2 linked regions of the Homo sapiens genome follow. The protein of the gene in region 2 purifies or fractionates together with the protein of the main gene of each other region. This does not show direct contact. Each region holds a gene or a part of one and is shown on either strand. Other genes may lie near its edges.

Region 1 (3,500 bases), on a different chromosome or scaffold from region 2:
TAGTGAGACCCCATCTGTAAAAAAAAAAAAGAAAAAAGAAAAAATGTCCCATAGTGGGGACTTGGAATCATCCCCCACAAGAAGCCGTCTTAACCCCAGCAGCGTCAGTTCCCATCTCTGCTGACAAAGCCCTCATTTCTATTTCCAGCTTCAGCCTCAGACCAGGGGTCCTGCACCCTCCTGAATGCCACATCCTGGACATCCTCAGGGCCCCCTACACCTACCAAGTTCCCCACTGGCCATATCATCTTTCCCAAACCTGCTCCTCCTCCCTGGTCCTATATGAGGGCAGTCCCCACCATCTTCCTGCCCCACCCCATGGCCCCGCAGCTCCATAACCCACCGCCTCAGCTTCCCACAGTTTCCCGAGTGTCTCTGTCAACCCACTCCCTTTTCTTGTTCCCTAGCCCAGCTGGTCCAACTTCGTCCTCACCCACCCAGGTCCCTGCCCCAGCTTCCCCTGGGGCTCCCAGCTTCAGTCTTCCCCTTGGGTCCACCCTACTCATAGCACTAGAAGGATCTTCCTGAAGCCCCAAACTGACCCCATTCCTCCCTTGCATACAACCCTCCATGGCTCCCTGGTATCATCAGGCCAGAGTCTGAGCTCCTCAGCCTGGAGGTCCTAGACCCTGCTCAACCCTCCTGCCTCACCTCTACCATAGCACCCCCAGTGCCCAGGGCACACCACCACCTTGCTTGTGCTGTGCCCTCTGCCTGAAAGAGCTTTCCTTCTGCTCTTTGCCCAGTTATCTCCTTCATATGTCATTCTCAGATCACATGTGTCCTCCTCCAGGAAGCCCTCCCTGACCACACCTGGGGCTGAGCAAGGGTACCTCTTCTGGACTGTCACAATCCCCCAGGCTTCCCTCATCCCCACATCCCTGGTCACTCTGTGCTATCACTGTCTGGGGATGTGTCTGTCTCCCATTTGACTTTAGGCCCCTGCGGGCAGGGCTCAGGGCTATCTGGATCACCACAGCATCCCCCAACCCAGGGCATGCTCAGAGCCGACACGCAGGGAACATCTATTGTCTGAATGGATCGCCATCCTCAGCCTCCTCCGGGGTCCTCAGACTGAACTGGGCGGGGAGGGGGTGTCTCCCCAAAGGAGGCATTCCCCAGCTCCAGACCCCTGCTCCGTCCCCCAACCCCCATAGACAGAGACGAGGGCAAGGGTCTTCGCCCAAGCTTGGAAAAATAGGACTTTCTTGTTTTGCCCCGGTGTCCCCGACACCCTCCCCATCAGAGTTTTAAAAACCATGAGCGATTTGGTGAGTTTGAGGCCAGGTCCCACAGGGTGTCCGGGTCCTGCTGTCCGTGGGGCCAGAGGACCCTTAGAGGGGGGGGCGCCTGGCTAGGGTCCCACAGGTTCGTGGCCGGGCCCCCAGGGCTCGCAGTCCAGCTGGACCACGGTGTGGGCCCTGAGCGCCGCGGGCTCCGGGGCGGGCGGGGCGGGCGTGGGCGTGGGGCCCAGGGCGCCGTTGGTCTGGGAGCAAACGCTGCTAACAGGCGCGGGAATCTTGGCCTTGCCGGGGGGCTGGCCGCCGTGCACCTTGTAGCGCATTAGCAGCACGAAGATGAAGACCAGTACCGAGGCTACGATGACGCCGCCCAGCGCGATGATCATCGTGCCGCCCAGGAAGGGAGCGTGCGGCGCCCCGCATGGCCGCAGCGCAGGTTCGGTGGAGAAGCGGGCGCAGCCCACAGGCCGCGTGGCCGTGAGCCCCGTGGCGCTGTCCTCATACACGGCGAGCACGCACAGATCGTAGGTCCGGCCTGACGCCAGGTCCGTCAGCAGGAACGAGCGGCTCTCCGCCGGGATCATCCTGCAGGGCAGGCAGGTGGGGGTCAGGTCTCAGGCTGCCCAGCCCCCAACCTGTGCTTCCCCCACCAAACTCCCTGCGGGGCTAGACTTCCCACCAGTCCACTCCTTCATTTCATTCTACCCAATGAGCTCCCTCTCACCAACATCCCAATTCCCTTTGGTCTGACATCCCATTCAGCCACCTGACTGATACCCCTCCAGTCTGTTGGCCAATTTCACTCTAGCCCACCCTCTCACACGTCCTCATAGCCTGCTGCCCATTTTCACTCTAGTCCCACCACCCAATTTCTCTAACAGCTCACCACGTGAGTTCTTCCAATCCATCCTGTTTCTTTTCTTTCTTTCTTTCTGTTTTCTTATAGACAGGGTCTTGCTCTGTTGCCCAAGCTGGAGTGCAGTGGCATGATCACAGCTCACTGCAGCCTCTGACTCCTGGACTCAAGCCATCCTCCGGCCTCAGCCTCCTGAGTAGCAGGAACTACAGGTGTGCACTACCATGCCCAGCTAATTTTTAAATTTTTTGTAGAGACAGGCTCTTGCTATATTGCCCAGGCTGGTCTCAAACTCCTGGCCTCAAGGCAGTCCAGCCTCCTGCCTTGGCCTCCTTAAGTGTTGGGATTACAGGCGTGAGCCACCACACCTTGCCGGTTTCATTTTATACCCAACTGCCCAATTTCCCTTTTGCACTGCCCACTCAATTTCCCTCCAGCCTGCAGCCCAGCTCCGCTCTAGCCTCCCTGCCCAATTTTGCCCCAATCCTCTGCCTGATTTCACTCTGGTCCCACTGCCAGTCATCTCTCCAGTTCACCACCCAATTCTGCTCTAACCCTGTCCAATTTCCATCTAATTTAATCCTTTTGTCTTCTAGCCACCCCCATCCAATTTCCCCCACATTTTACCTCCCAGTCTCCTCCAGACGCTTGCCAATTTCCCTCTGGTTCCCCTATTTCCTGCAGCCTATGCCAAATTTCCCTTTTCCAGCTGCCTGATTTTCCTCTAGTGTACAGCTAGGATTCTCTCCAATCAAACCACCTGATCTCCCTGTACCCCTGTTGCCCGATTTCCTTGTAACCTGCCAATAAATGTCCCCCTAGCCCTATTGCCTTATTATGATGACTGTATTGATAGCCTGTTTTCCAATGAGTCCTGTCGTCTGATTCCCTTTTCATTAAACTAATGTGCCTCCGTCACTACTGCTTTCTTTTTCTCCCTGTTGCCTTATTTCTTTCCGGCTCTGTCACCTGCTTCTCTTTTATCTCTGTTGGCTGGTTTCTATTTATCTTTTTCTTTCTTGTTTCCTTTTAATCCTTACCACCCAATTTCACTATAGTTTCTTTTGTAGTTGGGCACCCTGTTGGAGAGTTGACTTATCACCTGTTTTATTCCTAGGCTATTCTAATGAGAGAGGTACAGGGAACTCCGTGGCCGCCTGGGGCAGGGTGACTGTCTAGGACAGCATTCATCCCATTCCCCACCTGGCAAGGTGGCCAGGACTTGTGTGACTTTTTTTTTTTTTTTTTGAGACGGAGTCTCACTCTGTCACCCAGGCTGGAGTGCAGTGGCACAGCCTCGGCTCACTGCAACCTCCGCCTCCCAGGTTCAAGCAATTCTCCTGCCTCAGCCTCCTGAGTAGCTGGGACTACAGGCGCGTGCCACCACACTCAGCTAATTTTTT
Region 2 (3,500 bases):
TATGTCTGTATATATTGGCCTCCCCCACATGAATGTCTGCTTATCAAGGCAAGAACAATGTCTTATGCTTGCGTTCCCAGTGTCTAGAACAGCGTTCTCAACCAGGTGCAATTTTGCACTGTCCACCTTTCTACCCAGTGGATAGCTGGCTACGTATAGAAAAATTTTGATTGTCAATTTAGAGAGGAGTGCCACTAGCATCTAGTGGAATGCTATTGAATATCCTGCAATGCACAGAATAGTCACTCCACGGTAAATAATTATTCTACCCAAATTCTCATTAGTGCAGAGGTTGAGAAACACTGGAAGAATAATATTAGATAGTAATAGGTGCACAGAAATATTATTGAATGAATAATGCCTGGATGCATGGATGAATGAGTGGATCTATGAATGTGGTGGTATAGTTAGCCTCATATATGGTTAAAACTGTAGCAGTTCTGAACATTTAATTTAATCTGAATGCATATCCACATATATGTCTTTAATATTAGAACTACCTCATGAAACGAATTACCAATGTCTAGTTTATTATATGGCTTTTGCTAGTCACAAATTTAGCTGTGACTCATATTTGCAGATCAGAATTTAATAAGTTATAACATTTACTGAGTTTTTATCACATGGCAGTTATCCTGTGGAAGGTTTTGCATGTACTCTTTCCCTTAAACTTAACAATCACCCTTATTACCACCAACTTACAAATAAGGAAACTGAGCCTCTAAGAGCATATGTGGCCAAGGATACTAGATTAGTAACTGAAAGAGCTAAGATTTGAGCCAAAGTCTTTCTGACTCCAATGTTTGTTTGTATAGCCACTACATTATTGCTTCCAGACCCAGTAAACTAAAAGCAATATATAACTATAATCCTGATGTTATTATAGGATTTCAAGAATATTCATAATTATGACTCAGTTGTAACTTATATTCACAGGTGTTACCCTATGGATGTCTTTAAAAACTTACATTTTAGCTCCAAATTAAAGCTTCTTATCTGATGTTGAAGCTTTCCCTAAAGGTTCTTTATCTATTATTGTGCAATGTTCATAGATTTGGTAATTGATTTGCCAGATATTATCCGCATGGCAAATTCAGAAATGAATTATTATCCAATAATCTGAATATGTTTTATGATTTTGTTTTACAGAACTCCAGTAAATCAGGTGTGATGATTGGAGTTATATAGAATTTTTTCCTTCCTATCTTTTGTCCCAACTTTTATGCTCAGCAACTTGTCTTGAAAGATTGATTCCAAATCCCTTCCTCTTTTAGAGTTAACACAGCCTGTCTAGAATTTCAATTTGGTTTACCCTGAAGGACTGCAGAATCTGGCAAGCTTCCCGGACCAACTTATTTTGCGAGGAAACAAAGTGAAAATTACTGAAGGACTAGTGGGCAATTGTGTTGCTGTAAAGAGCTGTAAAAATCTGCTTTTTAGCTGCTATGTGTCAGGTGGGAAAGTGATGAGCTAGGAAAGGTAGGCTTTACAGTGCTATTGTCACTTCATCTGTGAAAAATAAAATTTAGAAGCCCTTTATGTATCTTTGTTCAGGATATTCATGCTGAGCAGGATGGCATCTATGCATCTGGCTCCTGGTTTTTGCCTCTGCTTAATCTGTCCATTTCCCCTTCTGTCCATCTCTCTGTCTGTCCATCCATGCGCTTGCACATCCAGCCATTGCCTGCTGGCTGCAATAGCCCAGTACTTCTGGACATCAGATGTTTGAGTCTGGCTCTGGCAGCTACTAGCAGTGCACATCCACCCCGGTCCATTCTCAGTAATTCATTTAATCACACTGTGGCTCAATTTTCTCATCTATAAGATGGGATAACATTCAGCTGAAAGAGTTGTCATTGCAGTGAAATAAGGATGCAGCTACAGAGTTTAGGGAAGCATCTGAAGCCTAGTAAGGGCTCAGTAAGTTACGATTAATGAAAGTACAGAAGGGGTTTAAGGAGCAATTCCCATTAGAAAAAGTAACAAAGAAAGGGGAACAGTTTTAAGGTGGGGGTGAAGGAGGGTGTTTTATGCAACTTCTCATTCATTACCTGCAGTTCCCTTTTCACCTTTCTCTCCTTTCCTGCCGTCTCTACCATCTCTTCCTGGAAGGCCGATGCGACCATGGGGCCCAGGGGAACCATTTGCTCCAGGGGGCCCTGGAGGTCCAGGCAAGCCAGGAATGCTGCAGATATACCTGGGGGAGTAGTTCTCTCCTTTCAACTGATTACCCCGGGGTTGTCCACTGGCACAAATGGCAAAACTTGTAACATAGAGCAAGACAAACATCTTTGGCTCTGGAAGAGAAACACACAGACGTAAATGAACTTTCTGTGTTGGGAGGGGTGTGGTTTGGCATGATTGAATCAGTTTGAACAAGAGAATGTGCATTTGCAACAAATCACTCCAGTGTTCGTCTTTCCAGACATGTAAAACACTGTTTACCTTCATAATTCCATTGAAAATTATCAACACATTATTGATATAGAATCCTCAGTGCCCTACACGGGAGTTGGTGCAGATGAAGAATTGGTTAAAAACATTTCAAAATAAATCACTGCATTTATTCTTCAGAAATCAATGATGGATTTAAAAATGGCATTTTCTTTTTACAAACATAGTGCATTTTTTAAAGAAAAAAATTTAGACCTGGAAATGAAAAAGATAAACATCAACATTATTTTTACCACCTTGAGATTTACATTTTAGTATATATATCCTTCCAGTCTCTTTTGTCTATACTATGGAGAAAGTGATACCATGCCATTTCTACACTTCCTTAACTTCTTTCACTTGACAATGTATCATGAACACCTTCTCATGTCAAAATTATGTGTGACATTAAAAAATAATTGCTTTTGTCTCTACTATCTTTTATGTACAGAACCCCCATTATAGATATTTAGGTTGCTTCCAAAGTTCTCCCAATATGAACATCATGCTAGACATCATTCTAGCTAATCTTTGCATGCACCCATGATTGTTTTCTTAGAATTTATGGACTATTTAAAGCTGGAGAAAAGAGGAGGCATTTTCAGGAAAACCATGGTTTTCACTTGGTAATCATGTATAATGCCAATTAGTGTTAATTGGGGTACTGTGCATGTCCTGAGGGGAGGTCTCAAACTTTAATTTAAAATCTGCAGGATATAATGTCGTGGTGTCCCATTAAGCTGTTAGCACTGGGGCTCAATTAAAGAGCTGTGTGAAATTAAGCCACGCATGGTGCCTGTGCCCCAAGTGAAGCAGGCAGCAGGTCTCTTCAATTCTGATCTAATAGGACTCCCCCATAAAGCCTAGAAGCTCAGAATGATGAGTCATTTATTAGTATGGCACTTTGGCATATAGGCTGAAGGTGAGATGGAGAGTGGTATAGATTGGAGATACCTGATTTTTTAGGCTAAATGGTCCTTAGTATTAGCAGTTTTTTAAAGGGAAGAACATATACAGGTGGTTCTGGGGTCATGCAAATGAGTTGTGTTTGGATGGTTGGACCCATG

The links. The genes of interacting proteins can lie anywhere in the genome.
Region 1: the proteins of C1QTNF7 (region 2) and LRFN3 purify together in Homo sapiens (affinity purification with mass spectrometry; one large-scale study listed by BioGRID and IntAct). This does not show direct contact.

Annotation. Positions count from the first base shown.
Region 1 is NC_000019.10:35,942,874-35,946,373, reverse strand, and holds part of LRFN3 (leucine-rich repeat and fibronectin type-III domain-containing protein 3 precursor), read right to left. Parts: intron 1,827-3,500; coding exon 1,355-1,826; 3' UTR 1-1,354. UniProt on the Homo sapiens protein: Cell adhesion molecule that mediates homophilic cell-cell adhesion in a Ca(2+)-independent manner. Promotes neurite outgrowth in hippocampal neurons.
Region 2 is NC_000004.12:15,434,533-15,438,032, reverse strand, and holds part of C1QTNF7 (complement C1q tumor necrosis factor-related protein 7 isoform b precursor), read right to left. Parts: intron 2,298-3,500; coding exon of another isoform or gene 2,290-2,297; coding exon 2,052-2,289; intron 1-2,051.